Linked DNA regions of Homo sapiens: all the other regions are linked to region 1. The links come from fine-mapping of genetic effects on plasma protein levels. A gene starts in region 1. Each other region holds a variant in brackets. All regions are shown on one strand. Distances are from middle to middle.

What was found. PIP is the chance, under the fine-mapping model, that this variant and not a neighbour inherited with it causes the effect. Protein levels are from antibody-based Olink assays in UK Biobank. Linkage for the fine-mapping came from a reference panel and not from the study's own genotypes, which makes the PIPs less certain.
Region 2: its variant is fine-mapped to the plasma level of the PADI4 protein (UK Biobank, PIP above 0.99).
Region 3: its variant is fine-mapped to the plasma level of the PADI4 protein (UK Biobank, PIP above 0.99). The variant lies in the coding sequence of PADI4. If it changes the protein, the assay may bind it differently, which can mimic a change of level.

Annotation. Positions count from the first base shown.
Region 1 is chr1:17,302,234-17,312,660 of GRCh38, forward strand. PADI4 (peptidyl arginine deiminase 4) reads left to right here and starts at 5,964. Exons shown (of 16, transcript NM_012387.3): 1 at 5,964-6,081. The coding sequence starts at 5,990. RefSeq lists an enhancer at 2,286-3,146.
Region 2 is chr1:17,345,484-17,355,910 of GRCh38, forward strand. PADI4 (peptidyl arginine deiminase 4) reads left to right here. Exons shown (of 16, transcript NM_012387.3): 9 at 545-656; 10 at 2,458-2,565; 11 at 9,050-9,204. Among named protein-coding and RNA genes, the nearest start is that of PADI6, 21 kb to the right of the region's middle. The variant C/T (reference allele first, on the strand shown) is at 2,424.
Region 3 is chr1:17,334,606-17,345,032 of GRCh38, forward strand. PADI4 (peptidyl arginine deiminase 4) reads left to right here. Exons shown (of 16, transcript NM_012387.3): 4 at 1,554-1,621; 5 at 3,433-3,550; 6 at 5,083-5,208; 7 at 7,338-7,516; 8 at 7,694-7,797. Among named protein-coding and RNA genes, the nearest start is that of PADI4, 32 kb to the left of the region's middle. The variant A/G (reference allele first, on the strand shown) is at 7,788.

The DNA of each region.
Region 1 (10,427 bases):
GAAAGCTCCCTGACGCTTCACTAGAAGCCAAGAGGATGCCAGCACCATGCTTCCTGTAAAGCCTGCATGAGCCAATGAAACCTCTTTCCTTTATAAATTACCCAGTCTCAGGTATTTCTTTATAGCAAGGCAGGAAGAGCCTAATATACTACCCAATTTTAAGATTTATCATATAGCTACAGTAATCAAAATTGTGTTGTATTATTGGAGGAACAGACACAGATCAATGGAACTGAATATAGAACCTGGAAATAGCCCCACACATGTATGCCCAACATGTACAATTTTTGACAAAGATGCAAAAGCAATTCAATTTCAATTTGTTGAAAGAGAGTCTTTTCAACAGACGATGCTAGAGGAAGGAATGTATCTTAAAATAAATAGTGTCATAAATTCAGTAAAATACAGTATTTCTTGTGCACCTACTCTGTGCTAGGCCCTGTCCTAAGCACTAGGGAGATAACAGTGAGCAAAGCAAAGTCCATGCTTTCATGTCACTCACATTCTCATGGTCTTGGTCCCCAGGAGAAATCCTGGGTGCCAGAGAAGAAATGTAAGCACCTGGTGTCAAGGGTTGGGTAGGAGCCAGTTCCAGAAAGGGAATGCAGAGACATTTGCCTTCATCTGACTGGTCCCCTTCCTTTTCTCAAAGGTGGCAGAGGGGAAGGTTGCAGGCTTTTGATGCAGATAGATTTGGGCTCCATCTCCTGTCTCTGCCCCTAATGTGCTACTCATCTGTCAATGACTGACATTCACTGGGTTAGTGTATTGTTCACATGAATGGGCTCCAGTGCAGGGCAGAGCCTGGCACATGTTAGAGTCATGATTATGCCCTTGTGTGCCCATGAATCCTTCCAAAACCTAGAAGGATTCTGCAAGGGAGAGAAAGGAGAGATGCTGGGGGCAGGGAAGAGCTGTGTGAACAGAGAGGAGAAAAGACTGCCCCTGCAATACACACAGCAGGCAGGGGGCTCCGGGATGAACACTTTGCAGGAGGAAGGATTTTCTTTTTTTTCTTTTTTTTTTTTTTTTTGAGACGGAGTCTTGCTCTGTCACCCAGGCTGGAGTGCAATGGCATGATCTCGGCTCACTGCAACTTCTGCCTCCTGGGCTCAAGTGATTCTTCTGCCTCAGCCTCCCGAGTAGCTGGGATTACAGGTGCCTGCCACCACGCCCAGCTAATGTTTATGTTTTTAATAGAGACAGGGTTTCACCATGTTGGTCAGGCTGATCTTGATCTCCTGACCTCAGATGATCCACAGGAGGAGGGATTTTCTAGTTTCAGCCAGCCTGGATGATCTAGACATGCTCCAGTGTTCTGCTAGAAGTCATGAATTCAGAGAGGCTGAGAGACCAGGGTTCTTTGTGCTGGAAGGGTCTTCAGAATTCATTGGCCAAGTGACCTGGCCTGGGGGCAGCTGCATAGCCCTAGAGTGGACGAGGATGCAGGGGCTTGGGAGTTAGACCACGCAAAATTAAACGTAAGTGTCACCACTTCCTTCTGCGTAACCTTGAGTGGTTACCTAACTCCTCTGAGACTCGGTTTCCTCACCTGGAAAACGGGGAGAGATGTTAAGGTTGCTGTGAGGATTAGAGATGATGCATGTTAGGACCTGGCATAGGTCAGGGCTACACCAGGGCATGGCATGTTGGATGAAGCCAAATTTGAAACCCCCCTAGAGGCCGTGTGACCTTGAGCCTGGTGCTTCACTCTTCTGTAGAAATGAGATTGTACCTGTTGCCCCACTTAATGGTGAGAATTAGAAATAATAGAGCCCAAGGACCTAGTGACAGGTAAACACATAGCAGGCGTTAATAGATGGTGGTCTCTATTATCACCCTGGGTGCTTCTACATTTATGTTAAACAAAGCCTAGGTTAGCTTCTAAGCGAGGGCCAGGCACTTAGGAGGCATTCGGTGAATATTTGTTGAATGAACAGCTCAGTGTTGGGAATGAACTGTACTTATGCATGAATAATGCTGAAGCAAGAGCTAGGCTATCTGCTGTAAGAACAGCACTGCACTATACCCAGACACAGAGCCACTGGGAGAGTCCTCTGACCCTAATTCCTTTCCCCCAAATGATGTCATTGCAATCAACTGGAGCAGGCTAGCCAGCCAGTCTCTGGGACAGGAGCTCAGGTGGCCTCAGCCCTCTGGGCCCCAAATGCCTAGAGGGTATTTGGCAACACCCAGAACACCCTTGCTTCCTCTGCGTGAGCTGGGCTGGTGATTCTGCCTTTCAGCAGGAAGAGAGGCCTCTTCCTCCAGGGTTTCTGGCCTGGATCCTGAGCCGCTCACCATGTATAAGAGAGTTCACTCCCCAACCCCAAAGGTCCCCTTTGGGCTCTGAAAGGGTTAATGCCATCAGCAAAAGAAACAGCCAGGCCGGGTTCTCAGGGATCTTCACAGGATCCTGTCTGGGTCAAGTACTGGGCTGGGTGCTGGGAACACAAACAGCCACGGCGTTAAGCCACCAGTGTTGAGTGACAAGTCTAGGCACTGGCCTTGCTCTCAGGCTAGCTGGGGGATGGGCATTTAAACACAAGGTGTGGCAAATCTCAGGAAAAGAATGAAGCGCTCTGCCAAAAAACTAAAGAGGGGCAAAGATGAATCTACAACATACCTGCAAATAACCACAGACACGGGCACAAGTGATGCATCGCTGCATGGTTTATGACACTGAAAACTTGCAGACAGCCCCCATGTCCAACAGTAGGGGAGCAGCCATGTCAGGATGCAGCTGGAGCTGCAGGCACAGGTGGGGCACGCGCCAGCCCCAAGTCTGTTGGCCTCTCATTCCACTGCCCTTGGCTCCTGCCCTCAGCCCTGCCCATCACAGAGCCCGTGGCCCTTGTTCCACTGTGAGTGACCAAGTGTGTTTCTACAAAGAGGCTTTGCTTCCAAAGTGCAGCCGTTTTCCCTCAGTGTGAGTGAGTGTGTGTGTGTGTGTGTGTGTGTTACAAACCTAGTTTTGCATTGCTCCCTGTGTAATTGCAAATAGCATGCATTCTCTTTTGCATCTCCTCTCCCTCATCACTCCCCTGGGTCTCTGGTGGAGGACCCCAGGGCTCATCCCTCGGCCTTCTCTCTTCCCTATCCTCACTCATTCCCTAGGGGAGCTGGAGATGTTGACATCTCACTGTTTTATCCTTTTCAGCCTGGTCCTGTCTCTTAAGCTCCGGAATCATGTGTTCAAACGTCCTACAGGGCATCATCACACCAAATGACACTTGGCAAAGCCAGGACCAAACTCCTGATCTCCACCATGCCCACCCCCCGCCCTTCCCTCAGCCTTCCCTGCCCAGCTGCGGGCAGCCCCATCCCTCCAGGGCCTCAGGCTCCAAACTGCGGTGTCCTCCTCCATCCCTCTGTCTTTCTTAACACCCCTCATCCAGTCCCTCTGCAACTCCTATTGGCTGTATTGCATCACAAAATGTCCAGAACCTGACCCATCCTCCCCTCCTCCACTGCCACCACGCTAGCCTGAGCCCCACCGTCTGTCACCAGCCTGTGTGCAGCGGCCACCTCACAGGTCTTCTGGCCTCCTCCCGGGTCCCCTACAGTCTGTTCTCACATCACAGCCAGAGTGATCACGTTCAAGCAAGTTGGTTCGCGGTCCTTCTCTGCTCAAAATGACTCCAGGCTCCCCACGTTACTTGGAGCAGAGGCCAAAGCTCTTAGGATGCCCGAAAGGCCCTATATGATCGCACCCCGCCCTGGGCTGCTCTCCCCCTCCCTCACTGCATTTCAGCCACACTGGCCTCTTTGCTCTTTCTTGAACCCGCCAGGCATGTCCCTGCCTCAGGGCCTTTGTACCGATTGCACTGGCTGTTCTCTTGACTTGGAACCTTCTCCCTGTGTTCCTGGTAGCCTTTACCCTGTCCTTTTTCCTTTTTCTACCCCACTAACATACGATAGAATCCACTTACTGCATTTATTGCTTACTGGCTGTCTCTCTCCCAACAAAAACAAACAAACAAAAAGGCTCTATGAAGGCAGGATTTTTGTCCACTTTGTTCACAGCGTATCCACGGTGCCTGGAACAGTGCCTGGCCATCAATAGGCACTCAGTCAGTATTTGTTGAATTAACAAAACTGCTTTGGGGCTCGTCCTCTTTGTGGCTCGTTCACAGCAAATTTAAACCCCAAACTGCTGAAGAAAATAAGAAAGAAAAGAAGGAACAGAAGAAAACAACCTCAAGAGACCTAAGACTTGGGGTAGAGGCCAGCCCTCCCTCTGATTTGCTGTGTGACCGTGGGCAGGTCCCACTCCCTTTCTGTGCTTCAGTCTCCCCTTCTGCAAAACGAGGACTGGATTGGGTGTTCTCTAAGGGCCCTCCCAACTCTAACAATGGACAGCTCCCTCCTGCCACTTCCCAGTAGAAGCTCAAACTAGTTCTAATCATGCGGTCAGCCAGAGAAATTGGGTTTATTAACACTGTGTGCAGGCAGTCATGTAGATGCGTCAGAACGTCGGACCTGGCCACATCATCATCTGCTGGTACAGAAGATAAATTTTGAGCCCAGAGAAGGTGGTCTGAATCCAGATCCCCACTGTAGGGCTTATGAGACCTTGGGGGTCTCACTCAATCTCTCTAAGTCTTTGTGGTCTCATCTACACATGGGCATCCTGATAGGACGCACTCCATAGGGATGTTGAGATGAGGCAGGATTTGAACTAAAGCCTGTTTGATCCCACAGCCTGACTCTGAATTAATGAGGCAAATTCTTTGCTTCAAAGCCAAAGCAAGCAAACAAAAAACAAACGCAAGATATCCAACCCACGAAACGCTCTATGTTCACGCCAGACTCCCATGCATGCACCCTTTGAGTGCTCCTTGTTGGGACCCATCCACCACCCCCCAGTTGCCTCATTAAAGGCAGAGCCTGGCACCAATGGCCCAGGTGCAACCACAGCTCTGAGGCCACATGGGCATCCCCCTGGCAGGCGTGGCCCACACCTGCACTGTCTGGTCTGACACCCAGAGGCCCTGGCAAGAGGCAGGTATCCTGGAGCATGCAGAGAACATCAACTTCCATGCCAGGAAGCTCATCTTCTCTTCCCAGCTCTGCCGCATTCTAGCTCTGGCACCTTGGGCAAGAGCTAGTCACTTTTACTCTCTGAGCCTCAATTTTCCTTCTGTAAAATGGGTTGTAATAATAAGCCCATATACACCTTGTATTGTAGCGAGATGTAGCTGTGATACAGTCTGGAAAGCACGTGTCATATAGACAGGCAGCTAATGAATCTCACACTCTGGAACTGGACACCTTTGGTTCCAATTCTGGCCCTACCACTCTCGAGCTGTGGAAGAACTGCACCTCTGTTTTCTCCTCTGTAAAATGGGTATAATAATGGCACCAACCTCAGAGGGCTGCTGTGAGGGTGAAATAAGGGGATAATGGTATGATCTAGTTCACGGGTTTGTCGTAATGAGCTATTCTATGTGAAGTGCAGGAAAACGTGCCTGGCATAGAGAATGTGAGCTGTCATGTGGGTGGCCCAGGTGGAGAGACTTGTCCCAAGCCTGGTTGGTCTTTGAACGTGTAGCCTGGCCTGTGACTGCTTACCTAAAATCTCCCCGCTTTTCCCACCTTCTCCTCTCTGATATGCCTGTTTGACATAGGTGAGATTGGATAGATCAAGGTGTTCAGGGCCTCTAGGCAGGGATGGGACTGTGGGCATGAGGACCAGGACCCAACCCCTCAGCCCCACTCTCCACCCCAGGCTTTCTGAGCCATCCATCCTTCCCAAGAAACTGACAGAGCCACCCTGCCACTGGTACCAGCATTGACACCCATCTAGAGGTCCGAGGGGCAGCCCCAGGGCAGAGGAGATTTTGAGAGCCCACACCCCTGACCTGAGTGGGGAGGGGTTGAGCCTCTGGGCCACAGACCGCAGGTGCTGACTCATGGCCTCTGCTGGGCGATATAAAGGAACCAGCCCAGGGGCTTCCTACAGCCAGAGGGACGAGCTAGCCCGACGATGGCCCAGGGGACATTGATCCGTGTGACCCCAGAGCAGCCCACCCATGCCGTGTGTGTGCTGGGCACCTTGACTCAGCTTGACATCTGCAGGTAAGAGGGGGGCCTTCTGGGGTTTTGGAGGCAGGTCAGGAGATGCTGGATGACCCAGTTCTACTGACACAGGAGCATGTGTTTGGCCCAGGCTCTAGGCTCCAGCCTCTGCAGCCACTGCCAGGGGAGTAGCTGGAGAGAGAAGACCCCAGCAGCCCTGGGAAGTGCCAGTCTCATGGCTGTGGGTTCTTTGCCATGTACAAGTGCAAATTCCCCAGGAACACACGACAGATAAATTATTATGGGGCAAACCAGGCCATCCATCTCCCTGTCTTCATCGAGGCAACAGAAGCTTACAGAGAGTCTGTGACTTGCTCAAGGTCACACAGCACGTGTGCCCTGGAAGTAAGGTTAGCCCCTGGGCCTCCTGGTTCACAGCACAGTTTGTTACCCCACATCTCTTAGCTAAGCCTCCCTCAGTGGGTGCATAATAGCGTGGGTGGGGATGGCGAAACGGGGCTCTGTGGCGGCAGAGACTGAGGTAGGAAGCCTGGACCTGCTGCTGGCTAGCAAGGAGGCCTTGGGCAACTGAGCCTCAGTTGCCTCATCTGTGAAATGGGGATAATACTCACATCATGGGCTGGTTATAGGAATTCAATGTGAAAAAATGTGCAGATGTTGGCTGAGTACTTAGCACAGTGGTGGGCCCATCCTTGGTAGTTTTTATTTACTCATTTAACAAATGCTGAGTGCCATGCTCTGTGGCAGGGTCTGGGTTAAACAAGAGAGTTGAGGAATGCTCTCGGGGAGTGTGCAGGGTCATTGTTGTTATTGTAGAACAGGAATTAAAAGAAATTTTAAAACGTGTAAGCAAAAACTCAGTTCTATGTTAAAAAAAAAAAAAACAATTTTCCCTGGAAAAAAAAAAAAAAAAGAGCTGGAGTCCCTTAAAAATTAACTGCCTGTTTTTTTGTGGCTAGTGAGCCTTATTGCTCCTCTTTTTCCAGGCATTGTAAAGACCCTGTTTCTCCAGCTGTGCAGCTGCAAGGTCACTAGACAGATAAACTCAAGCTGTAAAAATTTTTTTCCTTAAAAAGTAAAAAATAATATAATGCATGTCTCAATTAAATAACTGTCTTTGTTTCTTGCCTCTATAATATGCTTCCCCCTGCACAGATCTACCCCCGCCCCATGAAATGCTTAAAAGATAACTTAACTCTTTGTTCAGGGCTCAGTCTTTTGAAATGTTAGCCTGACTGAGCCAGTGAATCTAAATAATAAATCCTCCTCAACCCCTCGGTCTCTCTGATTCCTAAATTATCCTGCAACAATTGCTGTTGTCAGGAATAGGAGTGGTTGCCCCTGGCTTCCCCATCCCAGTCTGGGCATCGGTGGCCCTAGAATGGTGCCCACAGGAGTGCCGGGGACATTTCTTTGCTACTGCCTGAGCCCCAGCAGCCAGAGAACAGCAGGAAATGTCGGGATGGTCTCCCAGGGCCACATGGTGGAGGCAGGAGACCAAGAAGTTGGGGAGAAAAGGAAAAAGAAAATCACCTGACATCATCTGAGGCGCCCCCAACTCCTCTGAGAATGGGTGTGAAGGAAATGACAGGAGCTGAAGCTAGCCCAGGGCCTCTCCCAGCATGCCCAGGCTAGCCCTCTACCCAGCGTCCATGAGTAGTAATCAAGATCACAAGTGCTTCCTCTGGCCCTAGAGAGGTGGGTGGACAGCTGGTCAGTGTTGGGCAGAGAGGAAGGCACTGCCCATTTCTCCCAGAAAGGATGGGGACTCCGGAGTTCACAGGGGCCTCTAAATCCTTCTTTTCTCCTCCTTCAGCCACACGTTGAGCCTGTCACTCTATCCCCTGAACATCTCACGTAACAATGGCTAATATTTACATCACACTTCCTACATTCAACTCATTCAATGGCCTTGGGAGGCAGGTAATGTTGTTATTCCCATTTTACAAAAGAGGAAACAGAGGCTCCAAGAAGTTAAGTAACCCACCTCAAGCCACACAGCTAATAAGTAGGGGAGCCAGGACTCAACCCAGGCAGCCTGACTCTAGGACCCTCCATTCTCCCCATGGGTCTCCGTTCCAGACCTTCCTGTCACTTCTTATCTGTTCTTAACATAGCCCCAGACAGCGCCTCCCTCCCATCTCCTGAGCAGCCATCGGCCTCTTCCTGAACCACACAGGTGGGAGGGCCACTCCCTCCTCACCTCCGCCCCTCATATTCATGCCTCCATAACTTTGCTCAAGCCATTCTCTCTGTCCCCAAAGTCAGGAACCCGGGAGGCAGAGGTTGCAGTGAGCCAAGATTGGGCTAGTGCACTCCAGCCTGGGTGACAGAGTAAGACTCTGTCTCAAAAAAAAAGAGGCAAAAACACCTAACCGAGGGTCACATAAATTAAAGGTGGCAAGCTGGGCACGGTGGCTTATGCCTGTAATCCCAGCACTTTGAGAGGCCAAGATGGGCAAATCACTTGTGGTCAGAATTTCGAGACCAGCCTGGCCAACATGGGGAAACCCCGTCTCTACTAAAAATACAAAAAAATTAGACGGGGCGCAATGGCTCACATCTGTAATCCCAGCACTTTGGGAGGCCGAGGCAGGCGGATCACAAGGTCAGGAGATCGAGACCATCCTGGCTAACATGGTGAAACGCCGTCTCTACTAAAAATACAAAAATTAGCCGGGCGTGGTAGCACGCAGCTATAGTCCCAGCTACTTGGGAGGCTGAGGCAGGAGAATCGCTTGAACCCAGGAGGCGGACGCTGCAGTGAACCGAGATTGTGCCACTGAACTCCAGCCTGGGCAACACAGTGAGTCTCCGTCTCAAAAAAAAAAAAAAAAATTAGATGGGAGTAGTGGCACATGCCTGTAATCTCAACTACTCAGGAGGCTGAGGCACAAGAGTTGCTTGAACCTGGGAGGTGGAGGTTGCAGTGAGGCAAGATTGCACCACTGCACTCCAGCAAGGGCAACAGAGTGAGACTCTGTCTCAAAAAAAAAAAAGTTAAAGGTGGCAAAGCCAGGACTGTCTGACCCTAAACCCACCCTGCTTCGCAGCCCACCCTGCCTCCAAATGCTGGGGAGTGGACTCCCCTGGGCACTGCTCCCTGTGGGCAGAGCTCATTCAACTTCCAAAGGATTTGGTAAAGGCCTAGAAGGGGTGGGGGTCCAGGAGGTGCCAACTGCAAAGGGCAGTGTGCATTCAGAAGCTGCCATCTATGGTCTCTCTTCTTCCTCCCAAAGTCTCCTTCTTCTTTTTTTTTTTTTTAAAAACGGAGTCTCGCTCTGTCCAGCCCAGGCTGGAGTGCAGTGGCAAGATCTTGGCTCACCGCAAGCTCCACCTCCCGGGTTCACGCAATTCTCCTGCCTCAGCCTCCCCAGTAGCTGGGACTACAGGCGCCTGCCACCATGCCTGGCTAATTTTTTTGTATTTTCAGTAGAGACGGTGTTTCACCGTGTTAGCCAGGATGGTCTCGATCTCCTGACCTCGTGATCCACCCGCCTCGGCCTCCCAAAGTGCTGGGATTACAGGCTTGAGCCACCGCGCCCAGCCGGGTTTCCTTCTGAATAGACCAGTTGGCATGACAGTGGGGAGCCTGGACAAGTCTGTTTGTCTCTCTGAGCCTCGGTTTACCCATCTGTAAAATGGGAAAATTAACACCCCTTCCTGGGTTACGGCGAAGATTGAATTATATAATGCACACAAAGTGTCTGGCAGAGGGGTCCCCTTTCCAATGCAAATCAAAGAAAATGACTAAAGTGAGTGTCAATCATTTTCAGAGGTTTATTTCCAAGGTTAAGGACGTGCCCAGGAAAAGAATACAGAAACAGGAAAAATCTGTAGTCCGTGCTTTTTCCTAAATGGGTCTGGGACTTCAATATTTAAAGGGAAAAGAGTGGGAATTGGGCCGGATGTGGTGGCTCACGCCTGTAATCCCAGCACTTTAGGAGACCAAGGAGGGTGGATCACCTGAGGTCAGGAGTTCGAAACCAGCCTGGACAACATGGTGAAACCCCATCTCTACTAAAAATACAAAAATTAGCCGGGCGTGGTGGCAGACGCTTGTAATCCCAGCTACTCAGGAAGCTGAGGCAAGAGAATCACTTGAACCCAGGAGGCGGAGGTTGCAGTGAGCTGAGATTGCACCATTGCACTCCAACCTGGGCAATAAGAGTGAAACTCCGCCTCAAAAAAAAAAAAAAAAAAGTGGGTATTGGGGCAAAGAGGAAGAAAGAAAAAAAAGATGGGTAGATAAGAGGTAAGTGGTTGCATTGAGTCTTTGATCAGCTTTCACTGAATACATTTTCCGTGTGAGGTGGGGAGAGGAATAGTCACTTATGCCTTGAGCTCAGGGAATCTATATTGTCACAAATGATAAACATAGAGCA
Region 2 (10,427 bases), 43 kb after region 1:
CTGTGTCCCCACCCAAATCTCATCTTGACATGTACTCCCATAATTCCCAAGTGTTGTGGGAGGGACCCAGTGGGAGATAATTTGAATCATGGTGGCAGTTTCTCCCATACTGTTCTCATGATAGTGAATAAGTCTCATGAGATCTGATGGTTTTATCAGGTTTTTCTCCTTTTTCTTCTTCCTCATTTTCTCTTGCCACCGCCATGTAAGAAGTGCCTTTTGCCTCCCACCATGGCCTCCCCAGCCATGTGGAACTGTAAGTCCAATTAAACCTCTTTTTCTTCCCAGTCTCAAGTATGTCTTTATCAGCAGCGTGAAAACGGACTAATACACGGGTGGAAGGGGTACCCACTAGTTCCTGCCTCATAACTTGTTAGATGGATTCCATGAGCTAATGCCTGCTAAGAGCAGATGGACCGGACGTGCCAGGAGCCTCTGTTCAGGCCACAGGTGACCCCTGAGCCACCTGTGTGTCCCTCCCAATCCTTCCAGGCTGAGCTTCAAATTCCAGAGCACTAAGGAGCTGCTTTTCTGCTCTCTCTAGTATTTTTGAAAATGAGGACTTCCTGAAGTCAGTGACTACTCTGGCCATGAAAGCCAAGTGCAAGCTGACCATCTGCCCTGAGGAGGAGAACATGGATGACCAGTGGATGCAGGTATGTGCCCTGCGGGGCAGGCAGGGTGACTGTCCCTGAGGGCCAAGAGACACTTGGGGGACCCGGGCTCCTGGGGTTCAGCCTGGTGCCTCACCGGCCACTCTTCCTTAGATGGACAGGGAGATAGGAACCTGAGAGATCCTTGGGCCGGGAGGCTCAAGCAAGTGATTCATCTGACGTTTGCTGTGGGCCACTGCAGGCCCACTGCAGTCACCAAGATGAAGCCACCTTCCTGCTTGAAAACACTCAGGTGGCCTCAGGAAATGATGTGAAGCTCAGGAGATTGGTGCTCAACCAGCCCCTCAAGTGGTCCTCCCTCCAGGCTGTCCATCTTGGGCCCAGCCACCAAAGCAGGTCACACCCCAGCTCCAGCACTTTCCATGGCTCCCATCTCCTCCTGCTTAGTCTGTTTCCAGGCCCTCTCAGCCTGCCTGGTTCCCTTCCCTGGGGCCAGCCTGCCACTGTGCCTGGAAACACATGATTACCAGTCTCTGTTTCCGTGCCACTCCCCCATCATGCCAGGAGTGCCCCAAGGACTGAGACTGGGCCTCATCCAGCCTAGCACCCTGACCCTCCCCACCACTGCCTTGCTTTGCCTCGGGACCCTGTCCTTCCATGCCGCACCCCTGCGGTGCTGTCTCTTGGACCCATCTCCCCATTCCCATCCCCCATCTCCAATCCATACCGGTGAATCCCAGCACAAATGCTCCTCGTCCATAAATTTCCCCCATCACCCCCAGCAGGAATTCATCCCTCTTTCTTTTCACCCCCACACAACATCCTTTCTTCCTTTCTTGCCATTCCATCTTTTCTTTTCTTTTTTTTTTCACTCTTGTTGCCCAGGCTGGAGTGCAATGGCTCGATCTCGGCTCATCACAACCTCTGCCTCCCGGGTTCAAATGATTCTCCTGCCTCAGCCTCCTGAGTAGCTGTAATTACAGGCATGTGCCACCACGCCTGGCTAATTTTGTATTTTTAGTAGAGATGGGGTTTCTCCGTGTTGGTCAGGCTGGTCTCGAACTCCTGACCTCAGGTGATCCACCCACCTCAGCCTCCCAAAGTGCTGGGCTTACAGGCATGAGTTACTGCACCTGGCCGCCATTCCATTTTTTTGATACCAAGTTGACCTGTGTGAAATTGCTGATATGTGCCATTTTTGATTTGCAAGAGTGGAACTTTCATCTGGTTCATCCTAATAGTAACTTATAGTAGTGATTATGTCCAACATCACACCTGCCTGCTAGAATACAAGCCTGCGGAGGCGGAATTTTCAGCAGATTCATTTCTGAAACCTCCCCGTGCTCCTCCTGCTGCTCCAGTGGCCCAGGCTGGGTCTTATCTGCCCTCCTTTGGGGAGGAGGCCGCGAGCTCTGGCGCCAACAGGTCTTCTCTGGCCCATCCTAGCTGCATCAGGAGCCCCTCCTCTGTGTCCCCACAGACCCCTCAACCCCTCACCCCCCATCACCTCCTAACCCTGGTGCCCACTGCCTGGCTCCCTTGTTTTCTCACCTTGAGGAGGGGTCTCAGTTTTGCTCACCAGGGGTCCCCAGCACTGGCCCAGGCACCACCAGGAGTAGGAGGGAAGGGCACTCCTGCAGGCTCATGGCCTCTCGTGCACTGGGCAAACAGGGGGCAATAAGCTCCGCTTCTGAGCCCCTTCTCTGAGATCAAACATCCCATAGGAATGTGCCCTTGACTGCAAGGGTGAGAGTGAGTGGATGGTTTCATGCCCCCATCCTGGCGTCGGGCACCAAGACCCAGGCAGCA[C/T]GCGCAACAGCCTCCTCTCCACTCACTCCCACAGGATGAAATGGAGATCGGCTACATCCAAGCCCCACACAAAACGCTGCCCGTGGTCTTCGACTCTCCAAGGAACAGAGGCCTGAAGGAGTTTCCCATCAAACGCGTGATGGTACCTGCATGGGGTGGGGAGGGGGCACAGCTGCCGAAACCCTCTTGTCTTGAGACTCCCTCCTTTTAGCCTGCCTTCCCCGCCCGCGCCTGTAGCTGAGTAGCCCAGTGCAAGGAGGTGGAATTCCTACCAAAGTGGGAGCATGTAGGTGGGGCTTGTTATTTTTTTATTACCAAGATAAGATCTGGCTCTTCATTTCCCAAAACCCTTGTCACCCGTGAGCTCAGCTTGATCTCCAGGTAACCCTGCCGAGGAGGTGGCTCAGGCTTGGACCTCCCTGTGCTCTTGAAGAAGCTCTTGCTGCAAGGTGGAGGTGGGGCCGGGGCTGGAATCTTTCCCAATGCCCAGCTGGAGGCTCTGTCTTATGGGTGGTGTTTGGTCTTCAGGGGCTCCATCTGGGATATGGGGGATTTTGGGATCAGTGGATCAGTGGTCATTTCCTGGGTGTGACTTTATCAGCCACAGGCTGTCCATGTGGAGGTGGGAAGTGACGTATTGCTGACTCATGCTTGACTAGCCTGGCAGGTTGATGCAAACTCAGCACAGAACAATAATAATAATAGTTGCATTTATTGAGAATGAGTTGTGTGTTAGCCAGTGCTGCATTCTTTACCTGCACTGACTCATTTAATTTGATAAACTGTTATGGAGATTCTATCAATAGGCCCATTTTATAGAAGAAGAAACTGAGGCTCAGAGTGGAGAAGTTGGAATTCAAACCCGGCCAGTCCGGCTTGGTGAGCATGCTTTTCCCCGCCCTGCCTCCCTCTCCCTGCTTTCCCAGGAAGACCCCAGGCCTGCGCTCTGAGTCCTGGCAGCCCCTTGGCTCAAGGTGCCCAGGGAAAACGACGGAAGGAGTGTGGGGTCCAAGGTTTGCTAGGACAAATGGCTTTCCGACAAGCATCTGTACTGTGCCCCAAGGGAGGGGAGAGTGGCCCTGCCCACACAGAAGGCTTCAGAATGAAACTTCAGTTAAACTCAACAACTTGTCCCGAGTCTCGCTTCCTCCTGGCCAAGCTGTGCGCTGAGCAGTGGAGATGCAGAGATGCTGTTGGATTCACAGTGTGTACTCAGCCATGGGGTCGAGTTCATCCTGTTTCAGCAGCGTTGGGGCGAACCAGCCAGCTGCTACCGTGACTTTGCCCTCTTTCTGCTGCTTTCAGTCCTGCCTGGTTCAGTGGCTGTGTCTACTTTGATGCTCCAAGTATAACAAAGGCCAGATTTTCTGATGCCACAAGTCCTGCTGGACAGACAGACGGACACCTCGGCACCATTGTTGTCCCCTTTCCCACAGACAACTTTGGATGAAGGCAGGCAGCACTGGTCCCTCAGCTAAGCACATCTGTGTATTCCAACTCAAATCACTCAGAATGAGGCCAGGTGTGGTGGCTGACACCTGTAATCCCAGCAGTTTGGGAGGCCAAGGAGGATGGATCACCTGAGGTCAGAAGTTCGAGACCAGCCTGGCCAGCATGGCGAAATCCCGTCTCTACTAAAAATACAAAAATTAGCTGGGCATGGTGGTGTGTGCCTGTAATCCTATCTTCTCAAGAGTTTGAGGCAGGAGAATCCCTTGAACCCAGGAGGCAGAGGTTGCAGTGAGCCGAGATTGCACCACTGCACTCCAGCCTGGGTGACAGAGCAAGACTGTATCAAAAAAAAAAAAAAAGAAAGAAAAAGAAAAAACAACAACAAAAAACACCCAAATCACTCAGAATGAAGAGAATTGGAGAAAAAGTCACACTCAGCACCAGGCTTTGGCCCCACCTGCCTCTCCAGCACCATTGTAGGCCACTCTCGCTGTCCCTTACCCAGCCCCACCTCCACTGGCCTCCTTCCTGTTCTTCAAACTTGCCTAACGTTTCCCCACCTCACGGTCTTTGCATATGCCGTTCCCTCTGCTTGCAGTGCTGTTCCCTGTTCACGGGGCTGGCTGCTTCTCAGCCTTCAGGTTTCAGCTTCTATTTCCTACTCAGTGAGGCCTTCCCTGATGCTAAAAGAGGGATCCCTACTCCCACCCCAACTCCTAGCCTTCTCCACTACAGCCCCCTGTTGACTTCTTCAGTGTATTTTGTTAAAATCATGGACTCGTTCATCTACTTTTCGTTGCCTGCGCTGCTGGGCCTGAGGCTGTTATGCCTTACGCTGTCCATCGGGCAGCTGGCACAAAGCTTCACACACAGTGGTTGTTCTTCCTGTAAGCATCGTCAGTAAATTTTCTATCACCACCATCAATGGGAAACCAGCAGCACTTCCTGCAGATAGAAGGCAACTGTGAAGTTAAACAGAATGAAACAAGATCCTGCTACCAAAGCCAGCTCGTTACAAGTGACTGCAGCATCTCTGAGCTCGAGGTCAGCTCTCTGCTGGTTAAAATGAGGGATTAGCAGGTGTCAAGGATGTGTTTGCATCACTGAAACTTGAATTTTTGAGGAACCAGAAAAGACTGGAGGAAAATGAGAAGGGCAACAGCTTTCCAACGTTGTGCCTCAGGCCGCATCACCTGGCATCCATGAGCGTCCCCCACACAGCCCACTCTTGGGGGGCCACTTCTGCAGACTATGGATATGCCTTCATTTGCCTGCAGAAATCCAAGGCTGAAGGCTGTATAACTGACCCCCTCTCACAACAACAGCCAGGGCAGTGATGTGGCTGAATTTACATTCATTCATCAAACACTGTTTGAACACATACTCAGCGGGGCCTTGTTCTAGGCACTTGAGATATGACAGGGAGCAACGCCAAGGTCCCTGACCTCACGGAGGGGACGTTCTGGCCCAGAGAGACAGACAGCAGACAATGAATAGAACAAAGCAGTTATATGGTTCCTTAGAAGGGGATGTCAAGAGCTACAGGTGCCAGGTGTGGTGGCTCATACCTGTAATCCTAGCACTTTGGAAGGCCAAGGTGGGAGAATTGTTTGAACCCAGGAGTTTGAGACCAGACTGGGCAACATAATGAGACCTTGTCCCTACAAAAAAAAAAAAAAAATTGTTTCAATTAACTAGGCATGGTAACACATGCCTGTAGTCCCAACTACTAGAGAGGCTGAGGTGGGAGGATCGCTTGAGCCCAGGAGGTCAAGGCTGCAGCGAGTCATGATTGCACTTCTGCACTCCAGTCTGGGTGACAGATGAGACCTTGTCCCAGAGGAAAAAAAAAAAAAAAAAAAGAGCTACAGGGAAAGACAGAGTAGAGCGGAATGGAGGGGCTCATAGGTGCCAGCGTGGTAGGGAAGGTGGATTAGGTTACATTCTTAAAGCCGAGTCTGGTGGCTCATTCCAGTAATCCCAGCACTTCGGGAGGCCAAGGCTGGTGGATTACTTGAGCCCAGGAGTTCGAGACCAGCCTAGGCACCATAGTCAAACCCTGTCTCTACAAAAAAAAAAAAAATTAAAAATAAAAATAAAAATAAGCCAGGCATGGTGGTGCATGCCTATAGTTCCAGCTACTTAGGAGGCTGAGGTGGCAGGACCCTTGAACCCTGAAGGGTGAGGCTGCAGTGAGCCATGATCACACCACTGCATTCTGGCATGGGCAATAGGAGTAAGACCTGGTCTCAAAAAAAAAAAAAAAAAAAAAAAGATTGCGTTCTTAAATAGGATGGTCAGGGTGGGCTTCACGGAGAAGCTGACCTTGCAGCAGATGCTTGAGGGAGGTGAGCGAGTTGGCCATGTGAGTGGGTGTCTGGGTGAAGAGTGTTGTAGGCAGTGAAACAGCCAGTGCAAAGGCCCTGGGGCAGGAGCATGCCTTGAGTGTTCCAGAACAGCAAGAGGGCCTGGAGGGGTAGAGCAGAGCAACCAGGAGGAGAGGCAGTCAGAGAGGAGATAGGAGGTGGTAGAAAAGGCAGTCAGGGAGCTGATGGGAGGCAGTAGGAGAGGCGGTCAGGGAGGTGATGGGAGGTGGGAGGAGAGGCGGCCAGGGAGGTGATGGGAGGAGAGGCAGTCAGGGAGGTGATGGGAGGAGAGGCGGCCAGGGAGGTGATGGGAGGAGAGGCAGTCAGGGAGGTGATGGGAGGTGGGAAGAGAGGCAGTCAGGGAGGTGATGGGAGGTGGTAGGAGAGACTGTGGTCAGAGAGGTGATGGGAGGCAGTAGGAGAGGCAATCAGGGAGGTGATGAGAGGTGGTAGGAGAGGCGGTCAGGGAGGAGATGGGAGGTGGTAAGAGGGGTGGTCAGGGAAGAGATGGGAGGTGGTAGCAGAGGTGGTCAAGGAGGTGATGGGAGGAGATGGGGGGCAGTAGAAGAGGCTGTGGTCAGAGGTGATGGGGAAGGGACGGGATGACCGGATGGGGTTGGGCTTGTTGGCTACTGTTAAGGCTGCTTGTTTAGAAACTGAGAATCATCACAGGGTCTTAAACAGAGGAGGATTATGATCTGGTTTGTTAGAAAAGGGAACAAGCCCTGCTATGTGTTGTTGAGTAAAGAGAACAGAGGCAAGGGGCAAGGGAGTGGGCAGGTGAGGGATGCTGGGAGTGCAGGCAGGGTGTGGCCAGAGGAGGTGAGAAGCCATGAGATTCCGGCTATGTCTGGAAGGCAGAGCCAGCAGGGCATTCTGACCCCCGCTATGAGAGAGGCAAGCCAAAGCTGACAGCAAGGCTGTGACCTCTGTGGGTGGCAGGCACCATCCCCTGGGAGGGGAGGACTGTGGGAGGAGGAACAGATTGATGGAGAATGAGGGGGTGGGAAGAGGGGACCCAAAGTTCTGTTTAGGGCAAGTGGGAGACAATTGGTCAACATCCAAATGGGAAGTCAAGTGAGCGTGGATACACATGTGATGTTTGGGAGGGAAGGGATGCCCAGAGATGCGAACATGAGGGTTGTCGGCTCGGGAACGGAATTCCATGAGACTTGGCAGGACGACTGAAGGGGCAAGTGAGGTTGGAGGTGAACCAGGATCCCCCGGTGTCCTGAAAGCCAAGTGCAGAAAGTGTGCGGAGAACACAGGTGTGACCGCCTGATTCAGGGGCTTCTGAGGGGAAGGCGAGGCCCGCGCATTGCACTTGGGATATGGCCATGTGTTCATGGAGACCTGGACAAGGAAAGCTTTGATGGGCGGGAGAAGCGGGTTGGTCTGGGTTTTAGAGAGAAGTGGAGAGAGGAACTGGAAGTGTGATTGTTAAATCTGTGGAATCAGGCCAGGCGCAGTAGCTCACACCTATAATCCCAACACTCTAGGAGCCGAGGCAGGAAGATTGAGCCCAGGAGTTTGAGACCAGCCTGGGCAACATAGTGAGACCCCATCTCTACAGGAAAGAACAACTTTAAAAATTAGCCAGGTTGTGATAGCATGCACCTGTGGTCCCAGCTACTCGGGCGGCTGAGACGGGACCGTGATCCTTTGAGCCCAGGAGGTCAAAACTGCAGTGAAGAAGTAAATTTGAAGATCACAGACCTCCTTAAGACCCACTCATCTTCCCAGAAACTCACACCTGGGCACATAATTTGGCGTCTACTCTCAGGGAGTTCATGGCCCCCATGAAGCCTCAGGGAATGGACCATCTATGTGTAGAAGGCTAGATGTACCCTCTCCTGGGAGGCAGGGGAGATGGGCGGTGGACTGAATAATGGCCCCTCTACATCCTAGTCCCCCCGAACCTGATGTTTCCTTATATGGTAAAAGGGACTTTGCTGAATGTAATTATATTAGGGATCTTGTGATGGGGTGATTATCCTGGTTTATCCTGGAATGCGGGAGGGCCTGTGATGATGGAAGCAGAGACTGGAGATCTTTGAAGGTGGAAGAAGGGGCTGCCAGCCAAGGCGGCTATTAGAAGCTGAAAAAGACACGGAAATATAATAGATTCTTTCCTCAGGGCCTCCAGGAGGAACCAGCTCTGCCATCCCTGGACTTAAGCCCAGTGGAACTGATTTCACACTTCTGGCCTCCAGAATTTTAAGAGAATAAATGTGGCTGGGCGTGGGGGCTCATGCCTGTAATCCCAGCACTTTGGGAGGTCGAGGCAGATGGATCACTTGAGGTCAGGAATCCGAGACTAGACTGGCCAACATGGTGAAACCCCATCTCTACTAAAAAAAAAAAAAAATACAAAAATTAGCTGGGCGTGGTGGGGCGTGCCTGTAGTCCCAGCTACTCAGGAGGCTGAGGAGTATTCCTTGAACCAGGGGCGGAGGTTGCAGTGGCTGAGATCATGCCACGGCCCTCCAACCTGGGCAACAGAGTGGGACTCTGTCTTAAGGGGAAAAAAAATGATGTTTTACAGATTTGTTTTATGCCCAAGTTAAGGTTTACCAAGCAGCTGGCACGCTTTAGGGACCCAACAAATGCTAGTCCCTTTTCTTGTCCATTGAATGAACTCAACATTCCTTTAACCTTCCACATGTGATAACAGCACCTGCTATGTGCCAGCTGTAGACGGTACTGAGTTACTTCCTGTGCCCAAGTTCATCTCTAAACTTGGACCCCCCGACCCTTCACCAGGGACCTCATTCCTCTAACTCTTGGCACTCCCTTCTCCTATCTCAGGGTCCAGATTTTGGCTATGTAACTCGAGGGCCCCAAACAGGGGGTATCAGTGGACTGGACTCCTTTGGGAACCTGGAAGTGAGCCCCCCAGTCACAGTCAGGGGCAAGGAATACCCGCTGGGCAGGATTCTCTTCGGGGACAGCTGTTATCCCAGGTAAGGAGGGGAGTAACAGGAAGGGGTGGCCAGGACCCAGGTATGCCGTAGAAAAGCAGAGGCCAGAGTGGAAGCCTTGCCTTCCTGCTTCCGATTCTAGACAGCCCAACAGACTTGAGGGAGTGTGAGAGGAATCCAAGCGCAGGGTGAGGAATGCGGGCTTTGGAGCCCATAGACCCAAGTTCAATTCCAGCCCTGCCACTTACCCTCTTTCAGTCAGTGAATATTTACTGAGCATCCAAAATGTTCTGGGAGCTGGGAATGCAGCCGTGGACAAGAAAGACAAGTCCTTACCACTACTCTAGTAGGGAAACAGATGATAGAAAAGTAGACAAGATAACTTCAAATGACAAAAACAAAAGAGAGGGGCACGGGAGGAATAGGAACTGTTAGGGTGACCAGGGAGGTCCTCTCTGGGGAAGGGGCTTTTGAACTGAGGCCTAATGACAGAAGGGACAGGGCCACCTGGAGATCTGGGACAGAGAGTTCCTGGCAAATGAAAGTGCATGTGCAAAGGCCCTGAGGCAGGAATGAGCTCCTGCGTGCAAGGCCAGGATGGCTAGAACCTATTGAACAAGAAGAGGCTGGGCACAGTGGCTCACACCTGTAATCCCAGCACTTTGGGAGGCCAAGGCAGGTGGATTACCTGAGGTCAGGAGTTCGAGACCAGCCTGACTAACATGGCGAAACCCCGTCTCTACTAATGCAAAAATTAGCTGGGCCTGGTGATGCATGCCTGTAATCCCAGCTACTCGGGAGGCCGAGGCAAGAGAATCGCTTGATCCCGGGAGGCGGAGGTTGTAGTGAGCCGAGATTGTGCCAGCCTGGGCAACAGAGCAAGACTCTGTCTCAAAAAAAAAAAAAAAAGTGAGGAAGAACAAGGCACTGCAACACTAATTTTTTTTTTTAGGAGAAAACTGAGGCTCAAACAGGTGAAGGAATGTCCCCAAGGCCACATGGCTAACAAGAGATCACCGACTTAGGTCAGACTGGCTCTAAGCCCCATGTGTACCCAGAATACCAGCATCTCATCTAACTCAAGAGGCAGTGCTTTCTGAGGCTAAGCTCTGTTCTACTTACCTTAGTGACTCTGTGCCTCAGTTTCCCCCAATAAAACTAGAATGACAATTCCTTGATTTCTCAAATGTTAGGGGATAAAATAAAGGCATTCTAGACTCCTGCATCCCTTTCTCAGCTGAAGGAGAACCCTGACCTTTTTGCCA
Region 3 (10,427 bases), 32 kb after region 1:
TATTCCTTTTTGATACCTCAAATATCTATAACAAAAAGTAGATAATGACACTGTCTTATACAAGAATATAGATAGTGTTCCTCAAATTCCATTATTTATATCTCATCTTCACCATTTCTGCCATATCAATGATCCACCTATACTCATATTTATGTAATGTTCTTCTTTAAATAAAATCCATTCTTAAACTTGACCTCATTTTGAACAATAATATCATGATTAGTATCATTATGTGTATTAAACATATAAGTAGCAGCCAGACATGGTGGCTCACACCTGCAATCCCAGCGCTTTGGAAGGCGGAGGCAGGAGGATCGCTTGAGCCCAGGAGTTTGAGACCAGCCTGGGCAACATAGTGAGATCCTGTCTCTACAAAAAATAAAAAAAAACAGCTGAGCATGGTGGCATGTGCCTGTAGTCCCAGCTACTCAAGAGGCTGATGTGGGAGGATTGCTCGAGCCCAGAAGGTCAAGACTACATGATTGTGCCACTGCACTCCAGCCTGGGTGACAGAGTGAGACCCAGTCTCAAAAACTAAAAAATATATATATACACACACATATATATATAATATGTAGCATATAGAATCTTCAGGTTTCATTTCATTAATGCATTTCATTCATTAATGCATATTTAAGTAATAATACTACAGCACTTACTCAATTGCCAGGCACTGTGCTAAGACTTTACATTTAATCCTTACAACAATCCAGTGAAATTGGTATTATTATTATCATCCCATTTTACAGGTGAGGAAACTGAGGCACAAGAGCTAAACAGACTTGTCCAAGGTCATGCAATTGGTTAGTGAAGGAGTCAGGAAGTCCAGGCCACGAAAGGACAATGCTTCCCCGGCCCTAACTAAGACGTGGCTATGAATATGTTTAGAAGGTCATCTGGGTCAGTCTCATGTGGGACAAGGGTCACCATATCATGCTGTGGGGCACACGGATCTATTTTATTGGAATGACCTTGCAGTCATATATTCGGATGAGGGAGGAAGGATTTACAAACAAATGTTTGCTTTCTCAGCCAAGCCATTTGGACAGAGTGGGGGCATGTTCAGGGTTGCAATTTGTCCCCAGATACAGTCACAACACATGTCATGAAGAGCCCGTGGGGCTGGTGTCACCGCTGGGTCCCCCACCCCAAGGTCACTGAGGGCTGGGGCCAGAGTCTTTCGAGAGGCTGGCAGGGTGTGCCTGCAGAGGCTTCACATCGAACCTCTCATTGTGGTGGTTGGGAATTCCTTCCAAAATCCCTGGGGGTGGCCAGACGTGCAGGGTCTGGTGGACATCACAGTTGTGGCCCCGCTGAAGGGGAACAGGTGTGGTCAGAGGCCCCAGCTCTGCTGTCCGAACTGTAGCCAGACTTCCTGGGGGCCGTGGAGGAGGGATGTCTTGAACCTGTGTCTCCTCTGAAGGACGGGAAGAGGGGCTCACACTATGGGTGCACACAGTCCCCTGGGGAAACGACCTGCCCATTCAGGGCCAGGCTGGGTGCCCCAACCCCGGACCCTCACCAACCTCTCCTCTTACTTGATGGGATTTCAGAAATCTCCTTGTGCGCAGACATCACCCGCACCGGCAAAGTGAAGCCAACCAGAGCTGTGAAAGATCAGGTACCACTCACCCAAACGCTCCTTTCCTACTTCTACTGGATTCTCCCCGGGCGCCCCCTTGTGGTGATGGGGCAAATGCTGGCCTGTCCCACGTATTCCGTGTTAACTGTTAAAAAAAGAAAGAAAATTAGCATCACCATTAATATTTTGGCTTATGTATTTCCCATCTATTTTACAAAATCAGAATTTCACCAATTGTGGGTTCAGATGTGTTATCCTACAAACTGGAAACCCTACTGAGTCACCCAGTTAATACACAGCAGAGAGGAAATTCGTGGGCAGGTCTCGACTCTGGCTCAAAAACTCCCTACTCCATGCTCTACAGCTGATATGGGAGAGATTTCTGCAGAGCTGTCTACATGGGGGAATAACAGAGAAAGGAAGAAATGGCAGGGGGAGAGGCGGGAAGGAGCCAGGTGGGGAGAGGGAGGGTGTGTTGTGGAAAGACAGGATGATGGGATGTGCAGAAAGGGCAGGTGAACGCTGTCTTAAACCAGAGTCTGCAGGTAAACCTGAAACCCCAGAGCTGCCTGCACCATTTTATGCTGGTGTGCACTGGGGGCTGTGCCCTGTAAAAAGATGAAGATCCTTTGTGGGGTCAGCAAAAGTGGGAAGACAAATTACAACTCTAGGAGTAGAATCTGTCCCTGTATCCCTCCCGAAATGCAGTCATTTCCCAGGGGCAAACGCTCTCCCGCGAAGGGAGGCGCCATCACTATTAGATCCCTACAGGGTGGGGCTGCTTAATGTGCTTTAATCTCTAGGCAGATATTAACTGGCTGCTAAGAATAGTACCACACTTTGCTGAATGAGTAATTAAGAGTTCACATAATAGTAACTATTTAGATTAGAATATTGACATACATATTTAGCTGCATTTGGTTTGTCAAGCTCAACATTTTATTTATTTATTTATGTATTTATGTATTTATTTATTTATTTATTGAGATGGAGTCATGCTCTGTCTCCCAGGCTGGAGTGCAGGGGCGGTTCACCGCAACCTCCGCCTCCCAGGTTCAAGTGATTCTCCTACCTCAGCCTCCTGAGTAGCTGCAATTACAGGTGCATGCCTCCACGCCCAGCTAATTTTTGTATTTTTAGTAGAGACAGCGTTTCGCCATGTTGGCCAGGCTGGTCTTGAACTCCTGACCTCAGGTGATCTGCCTGCCTCAGCCTCCCAAAGTGCTGGGATTACAGGTGTGAGCCACTGCGCCCAGCCAACATTTCTTAAAAGCTGTTAAAATCCATGTGACTGTCTTGGGCTCCTTTTTTTAAATGGATGAATTGTGTTTTGGGTGAATTTGGTTGTGACTTTTGGAGTAAAAGGCAAAAATCCACTCCTGAGATCAAATAATTAATTGATGTGGAAGCAAGATGTGTAAACTGCACTGGGTTAAAGAAGTGATGGGGGCCGGGCGTGGTGGCTCATGCCTGTAATCCCAGCACTTTGGGAGGCCGAGGAGGATGGATCATGAGGTCAAGAGATTGAGCCATCCTGGCCAACATGGTGAAATCCCATCTCTACTAAAAATACAAAAATTAGCCAGGTGTGGTGGCATGCGCCTATAGTACCAGCTACTCAGGAGGCTGAGGCAGGAGAATCACTTCAACCTGGGGGGTGGAGGTTGCAGTGAGCCAAGATCACGCCACTGCACTCCAGCCTGGCAGCAGAGGGAGACTCCGTCTCAAAAAAATAATAAATAAATAAATAAATTTTAAAAAAGAGGTGATGGGGAGTTGCTATGCCTCTTGCAAGAGTTGGAGGGCTCTATGCTAGTTTCTGAGCATGACTCTTCCCTGCTGGTGTCCAGAGGACCTGGACCTGGGGCCCTTGTGGACAGGGTGCCATCCTGCTGGTGAACTGTGACAGAGACAATCTCGAATCTTCTGCCATGGACTGCGAGGATGATGAAGTGCTTGACAGCGAAGGTAAAGAGCATTTGCTAGCTAACGGGAAGGGCTTTTTATAAAGCCCTTTTGCCCACATAGCCTGAACCTGGTGACGGCCCTCTGAAATAAGGGTTATTGAAAGCATCTTCTTGTTGGCAAATCTGTTTTATAGGTGAAGCAATGGGCAAAGGCCCTCGGGGGTCAAGTGACCTCCCCAAGCTCACGCAGCGGTCAGGGAAGAGCTGAGGCCAGTGCTGTCTCCTGATGCCTCCTACAGGCCCTGGTTTCCATGCCTCACCCTGCTGCCCAACCTAAACGCTCTTAGGTCAAACCTGGAGCCTGAAATCCTTCGAAATGAAAGCTTTTCATTCCCAAACTCATATCAGAGCAGGCCCTGAGACCTCTGCCATAGGCCGGGCACGACTCTGACCACTTTGGAATGATTAACTCATCTGATCTTCCAACACAAACCTTTATAGGTAGGAAAACCAAGGCACGGGGAACTTAAGCAATTTGCCCAAGGTCACAGCACTGACACGTAGCAGACTCGGGGTTTGAACCCCGGACGTCCCAACACCGGAGCAGGTTTAGAGGCATGAGGATGGTGGGGAATGCAGGATCTCTGCAGGCAAACCTCTGGGCTGCTAAGGGGGTGGCTCCGGGGTTGAAGTGAGGAAACATTATCCACCTGCGCTGGAGGAAGGTGCTAAGGGGCTCTGGCTGGCAGGCCTTCCTGGGGAGCTCTTAGAATAACATAGAAATGGATGTATTTTCAAGTTGCATGTAGTTGGCCTGGCCCGATGCCAGGGGACAGCCTCTGTACAGTGCCTGACATGCGGTAATAATCACAACAGCTGTCCTTTGTGGGCACTCCCGGGGTGCCAAGAGCTGGTATAAGCACTGTGTATCACCTGACTTTATCTTCACAACCATTCTACGGTGGGTACAACTCTTGCCCCTGTCTTAGTGATGAGGAAACAGAGGCAGAGAAAGCTGAAATCCGTTTCCTAAGCCCACCCAGATCCCAGATTCAAACCAAATTGACCGCAAAGCCTTTAAGCCCTTGGCTATCAGTCAGTCCCTTGGGAACCATCTCTTCACTCTCCCCACCCTCTACCCCTTCTTGGCTATTGTTCAAGTTGGTTCACAAACCCCACTTCTTGCTCAGGACCAGCACAGAAACCTTTCACTCGTTCATTGCACAAATCTCAGCCGAGCGCCTGCCGCCTGCTGGTCATTGTTCTAGGGAGTTCTCGGCTTTCTAGGTTCAAGATTCAGGGAACGTTGCAAGGAGCAAAATATTAATAAATGTGGTCCCCGCTTTGCTGAGGTTACATCCCCAGCTCATCCTAGTGGGAGGAGACCAAAACCTTAATGAGCTCTCATTCCAAAATGAAAACCATCATTTAAATACTCAAAATAGCATAAAGAAAAGAAAACCAGGCAACATGGTAAAGGGAGGTCTCAGGGGAGCGGTGGGGTGTGAGGCTCCACCAGGAGGTGAGGTGGCTATGGGAAACCAGCAGCGGTCTCAGGGCCCTGTGACTCAGGCAATGCCCTTCTCATCCCAGACCTGCAGGACATGTCGCTGATGACCCTGAGCACGAAGACCCCCAAGGACTTCTTCACAAACCATACACTGGTGCTCCACGTGGCCAGGTCTGAGATGGACAAAGTGAGGGTGTTTCAGGCCACACGTAAGTCATCCCCATCTTTGTTCCCCTCCTGCCCTGGCCAACGGGGCACAATCCTGTCACACAGCTGTGTGGCAGATAAATCCTGAGCACCTACTATGTGCCAAGTTCTAAGAACAGCAGACGCAGCAGTGGGCAAGACAGACGACATCTCGTCTACTACCTTCCAGTTGGAGGACACAGACAAAATGACTCGTTATTGCTCCCTGCTTTTCTTTCTCTCTCTCTCACACACGCGCGCGCACACACACACACACACACACACACACCTCCTGGTTATAGACTTTGAGTGCAAGCTGACAGCATGTGGCATGTAATCATTTGTTCTGCAACATCCTGCTAATCAGAGACATCAGGAACTTCTCAGTGACCCACGAGCACCTGCAACTAAGTAGGTGCCAGGTTGATCCCAGGCACGGGGCACAGAGCCATGACTGTGACCGAGTCCCTGCCCTCGTGTTGCTTTCATCTTAGTGGCTGGGAGAACTATAGGTAAAATAATTACATAAAACACCTAGTGTGTCCAACGCTGTGACATGCTATGTAGAAGAATGCGGCAGGGAAGGGGATGTGGAGTGAGGAGTGGAGTTCGGGTTGTGTGGAGAGAGGGTGGCCAGGGAAGGTGTCCCCCATGAGGTGCCATGTGAGCAGAGGGAGGTATAGGAACAGCCAGACAGACACCTAGGGGAAGGGCGTTCCAGGCAGAGGGAACGGCAAGTGCGTGGGCCCTGAGGTGAGATCATGCCTGTGGTTTGGAGGAATGCAGGGAGGCTAGTGCAGCTGGGGCGGAATGTGCAAGGGTTAAAGTGGGGGATGAGGGTGGAAGAGACAGGGCAGAGGGGAAGGGGGAGGTCAGGTAGGCGTATATTGACTTTGGCTTCTGGATGGAAGGAGATGGAGAGCGCCATGGGAGGGTTTTTTTTTTGCATGGGCCTGACAATCATTCTGATCCTGATCATTCTGCCTGGTCTATTCCAAGCTTTTTTTTTTTTTTTTTAATTTTTTTTTTTGAGAGAGTCTCACTCTGTTGCCCCGGCTGGAGTGCAGTGGTGCCATCTTGGCTCACTGCAGCCTCCACCTCCTGGGTTCCAGAGATTCTCCTGTCTCAGCCTCCCCAGTAGCTGAGGTTACAAGCATGTGCCACCACATCCAGCTAATTTTTGTATTTTTAGTAGAGATGGGATTTCACCAGGTTGGCCAGACAGGTCTCGAACTCCTGACCTCAAATGATCCACTTGCCTCAGCCTCCCCAAGCACTAGGATTACAGACACCATGCCCAGCCTCTGTTTCTTTTTTTTTTTTTTTTGAGATGGAGTCTCTCTCTGTCGCCAGGCTGGAGTGCAGTGGCGCAATCTCAACTCACTGCAACCTCCACCTCCTGGGTTCAAGCAATTCTCCTGCCTCAGCCTCCCGAGTAGCTGTGATTATAGGCATCCACCACAATGCCTGGCTAATTTTTTTGTGTTTTTAGTAGAGATGGGCTTTCACCATGTTGGCCAGGCTGGTCTGGATCTCCTGACCTTGTGATCCTCCTGCCTCGGCCTCCCAAAGTGCTGGGATTACAGGCGTAAGCCACCACACCCGGCCTGTTTCATTCTTAAAGTGATTAAACTGACACTGATTTGGTGACAGGTCAACTTATTGCCTCCACCCAGGCATCACCTCCTCCAGGAAGTTCTCAGGGATTCCCTCTATCACAGCTGTCTGCTATTTTCATGATCTCTGCTTCTCCCTACTCACCCGTAAGACTGTGCACTCTCTGGGGGTGAGGATAGGAGGACAGTGACTCTGTCTCCCTGGTCCCCTGCTGTGCCCCTGTCCCCCGCTGACATCTGGCTAGAGCAGATGCTCAGGAATGAGTGAAGGAATGGTGTATACTGGACTTCCTATAAAGTTTGGAATAGCTCAGGCACCCCTGCCACACCCTTCTGGGACTTCAGCCGGGGAGCAGCGTCCCAGCTAGAACTTCAGTCCTTTTCTCCTAAGGGGACTGGCCAGATTTGGCTGCAAGGGGTTCTCTGATGGTGCCATGTGGTGACCCTGGGAAAGGCTTCTGGGGAGCACTAAGGAGAGGAGGAAAAGTCTTCAGAAGTGGGGACGCAGACCTGAGTCTCCCCTGCCTCTCTCCTAGGGGGCAAACTGTCCTCCAAGTGCAGCGTAGTCTTGGGTCCCAAGTGGCCCTCTCACTACCTGATGGTCCCCGGTGGAAAGCACAACATGGACTTCTACGTGGAGGCCCTCGCTTTCCCGGACACCGACTTCCCGGGGCTCATTACCCTCACCATCTCCCTGCTGGACACGTCCAACCTGGTAGGCCGAGAAGGCAGCCCTGCATCGGGGGCCTGGGCTTCCAGGCAGTGGCCTGGCTAGGGAAAGGGGTACAGAGCCCAGCTGGGCAGGGGGACTCCAAACAGCTGCAGGAAGTGGTAGGTGCTGGGCCCTGGCAGCGGTGACAGCCCCTCCTTCCCCTTACCCCCTCCCCTGCAGGAGCTCCCCGAGGCTGTGGTGTTCCAAGACAGCGTGGTCTTCCGCGTGGCGCCCTGGATCATGACCCCCAACACCCAGCCCCCGCAGGAGGTGT[A/G]CGCGTGCAGGTGAGAGGTCCTGGGGTGCTGGGGTGGGTCCAGACAACAAAGAGCCTGAGTTCCATCCGCAGCACTCACTGTGTGATGGGAAAAACAGTCACCCCTCCCCTGCCCACTGAGAGCTTGCTGCTTGTTGGGGGCTCTAAAAAGGCAGGGAAGTTCCCTACTGTTGTTGTCATTGCCTCTGTCCTGCCCTGATGCAGCTGAGGCTACGTTAACTCCCAGGGGCCTGTAGAGTGTGTCCCATGGACCTTGTGCACCAGAAACTCCTGGGAACTCATTTAAAATGCACCTTTCTGGGCTGGGCACGGTGGCTCACGCCTGTAATCCTAGCACTTTGGGAGGCTGAGGCAGGTGGATCACTTAAGGTCAGAAGTTTGAGATCAGCCCAGCCAACATGGTGAAACCCTGTCTCTACTAAAAAATACAAAAATTGGCCGGGCGTGGTGGCGCATGCCTGTAATCCAGCTACTCAGGAGGCCGAGGCACGAGAATTGCTTGAACCCTGGAGGCGGAGGTTGCAGTGAGCTGAGATTGCGCCACTGCGCTCCAGCCTGGGCAACACAGTGAGACTCCATCTCAAAAATAAAATAACCAGCCTGGCCAACATGGTGAAACCCCGTCTCTACTAAAAATACAAAAAATTAGCCAGGTGTTGTGGCATGTGCCTGTAATCCCAGCTACTCGGGAGGCTGAGGCAGGAGAATCACTTGAACCCAGGAGGCCAAGGTTGCAGTGAGCCGAGATTGCACCATTGCACTCTAGCCTGGGCGACAGAGCAAGACTCCGTCTTGAGAAAATTAAAAATAATAAAAATTAAAAATTAAATTAAATTAAATTAAATTTAAATTAAATAAAATGCACCTTTCTGGCTGCCTGTGAGCTGCTGGGTCTTATCCCTGAGGACGGGGCCCATCTGCATTTTGGGGAGGCCCAGGCAATCTTCCTGCAGTCTGAGAGCCGCTGACAAGTGTGCTGGGGTCTCAGGAGACCCTCTCCTCCCCTCTTCTGATAGCTTCAGGGGCAGAAGAGTAAGAGGGTAATGTGGTCAGGACGCAGGCTGGAATCCAGTGAGGACTGTATTCCGGTCCCAGCACTGTTCCAGGTGGTGTGACCTTGAACAGTGAACTCATATTCTGTCTTCTCCCAAGTTGATATGGTTTGGCTCTGTGTCTCCACCCAAATCTTATCTTGAATTGTACTCCCACAATTCCCACGTGTTCTGGGAGGGACCTGGTGGGAGATAATTTGAATCATGGAGGTGGTTTGCCCCATACCATTCTCATGGTAGTGAATAAGTCTCATGAGATCTGATGGTTTTATCAGGGGTTTCCACTTTTGCATCTTGCTCATTTTCTCTTGCCGCCGCCATGTAAGAAGTGCCTTTTGCCTCCCACCATGGTGTCCCCAGCCATGTGGGAGTGTAAGTCCAATTAAACCTCTTTTCCTTCCTAGTCTCAGGTATGTTTTTATCAGCAGCGTGAAAATGGACTAATACAGTAAATTGATACCAGTAGAGGGGGGCGTTGCTGAAAAGATACCCAAAATGTGGAAGCAACTTTGGAACTGGGTAACAGACAGAGGTTGGAACGGTTTGGAGGGCTCAGAGGAAGACAGGAAAATGTGGGAAAGTTTGGAACTTTCTAGAGACTTGTTGAATGGCTTTGACAAAAATACTGATAATGATATGAACAATGAAATCCAGACTGAGATGGTCTCAGATGGAGATGAGGAACTTGTTGGGAACCGGAGCAAAGGTGACTCTTGTTATGTTTTAGCAAAGAGACTGGTGGCATTTTGTACCTGCCCTAGAGATTTGTGGAACTTTGAACTTGAGAGAGATGATTTAGGGTATCTGGCAGAAGAAATTTCTAAGCAGCAAGGCATTCAAGAGGTGACTTGGGTGCTGTTAAAGGCATCCAGTTTTAAAAGGGAAGCAGAGCATAAAAGTTCAGAAAAGTTGCAGCCTGACAATGCAATCGAAAAGAAAATCTCATTTTCTGAGGAGAAATTCAAGCCAGCTGCAGAAATTTGCATAAGTAACAAGGAGATTAATGTTAAGCCACAAGGCAATGAGGAAAATGTCTCCAGGGCATGTCAGAGGTCTTCATGGCAGCCCCTCCCGTCACAGGCCCAGAGGCCTAGGAGAAAATGGTTTCGTAGGCCAGGCCCAGGGTCCCCATGCTATGTGCAGCCTAGGGACTTGGTGCCCTGCATCCCAGCTGCTCCAGCCATGGCTAAAAGGGGCCAGTGTAGAGCTCAGGCTGTGGCTTCAGAGGGTGGAAGCCCCAAGCCTTGGCAGCTTCCACATGGTGTTGAGCCTGCAAGTGCACAGAAGTCAAGAATTGGGGTTTGGGAACCTCTGCCTTGATTTCCAAAGATGTGTGGAAACGCCTAGATGCCCAGGCAGAAGTTTGCTGCAGGGGTGGTGTTCTCATGGAAAACCTCTGCTACAGCAGTGCAGAGGGGAAATGTTGGTTTGGAGCCCCCACACAGAGTCCCTACTGGGACACCACGTAGTGGAGTTGTGAGAAGAGGGCCACTGTCCTCCAGACTCCAGAAGGGTAGATCCACTGACAGCTTGCACCGTGTGCCTGGAAAAGCCACAGACACTCAACACCAGCCTGTGAAACTGGCCT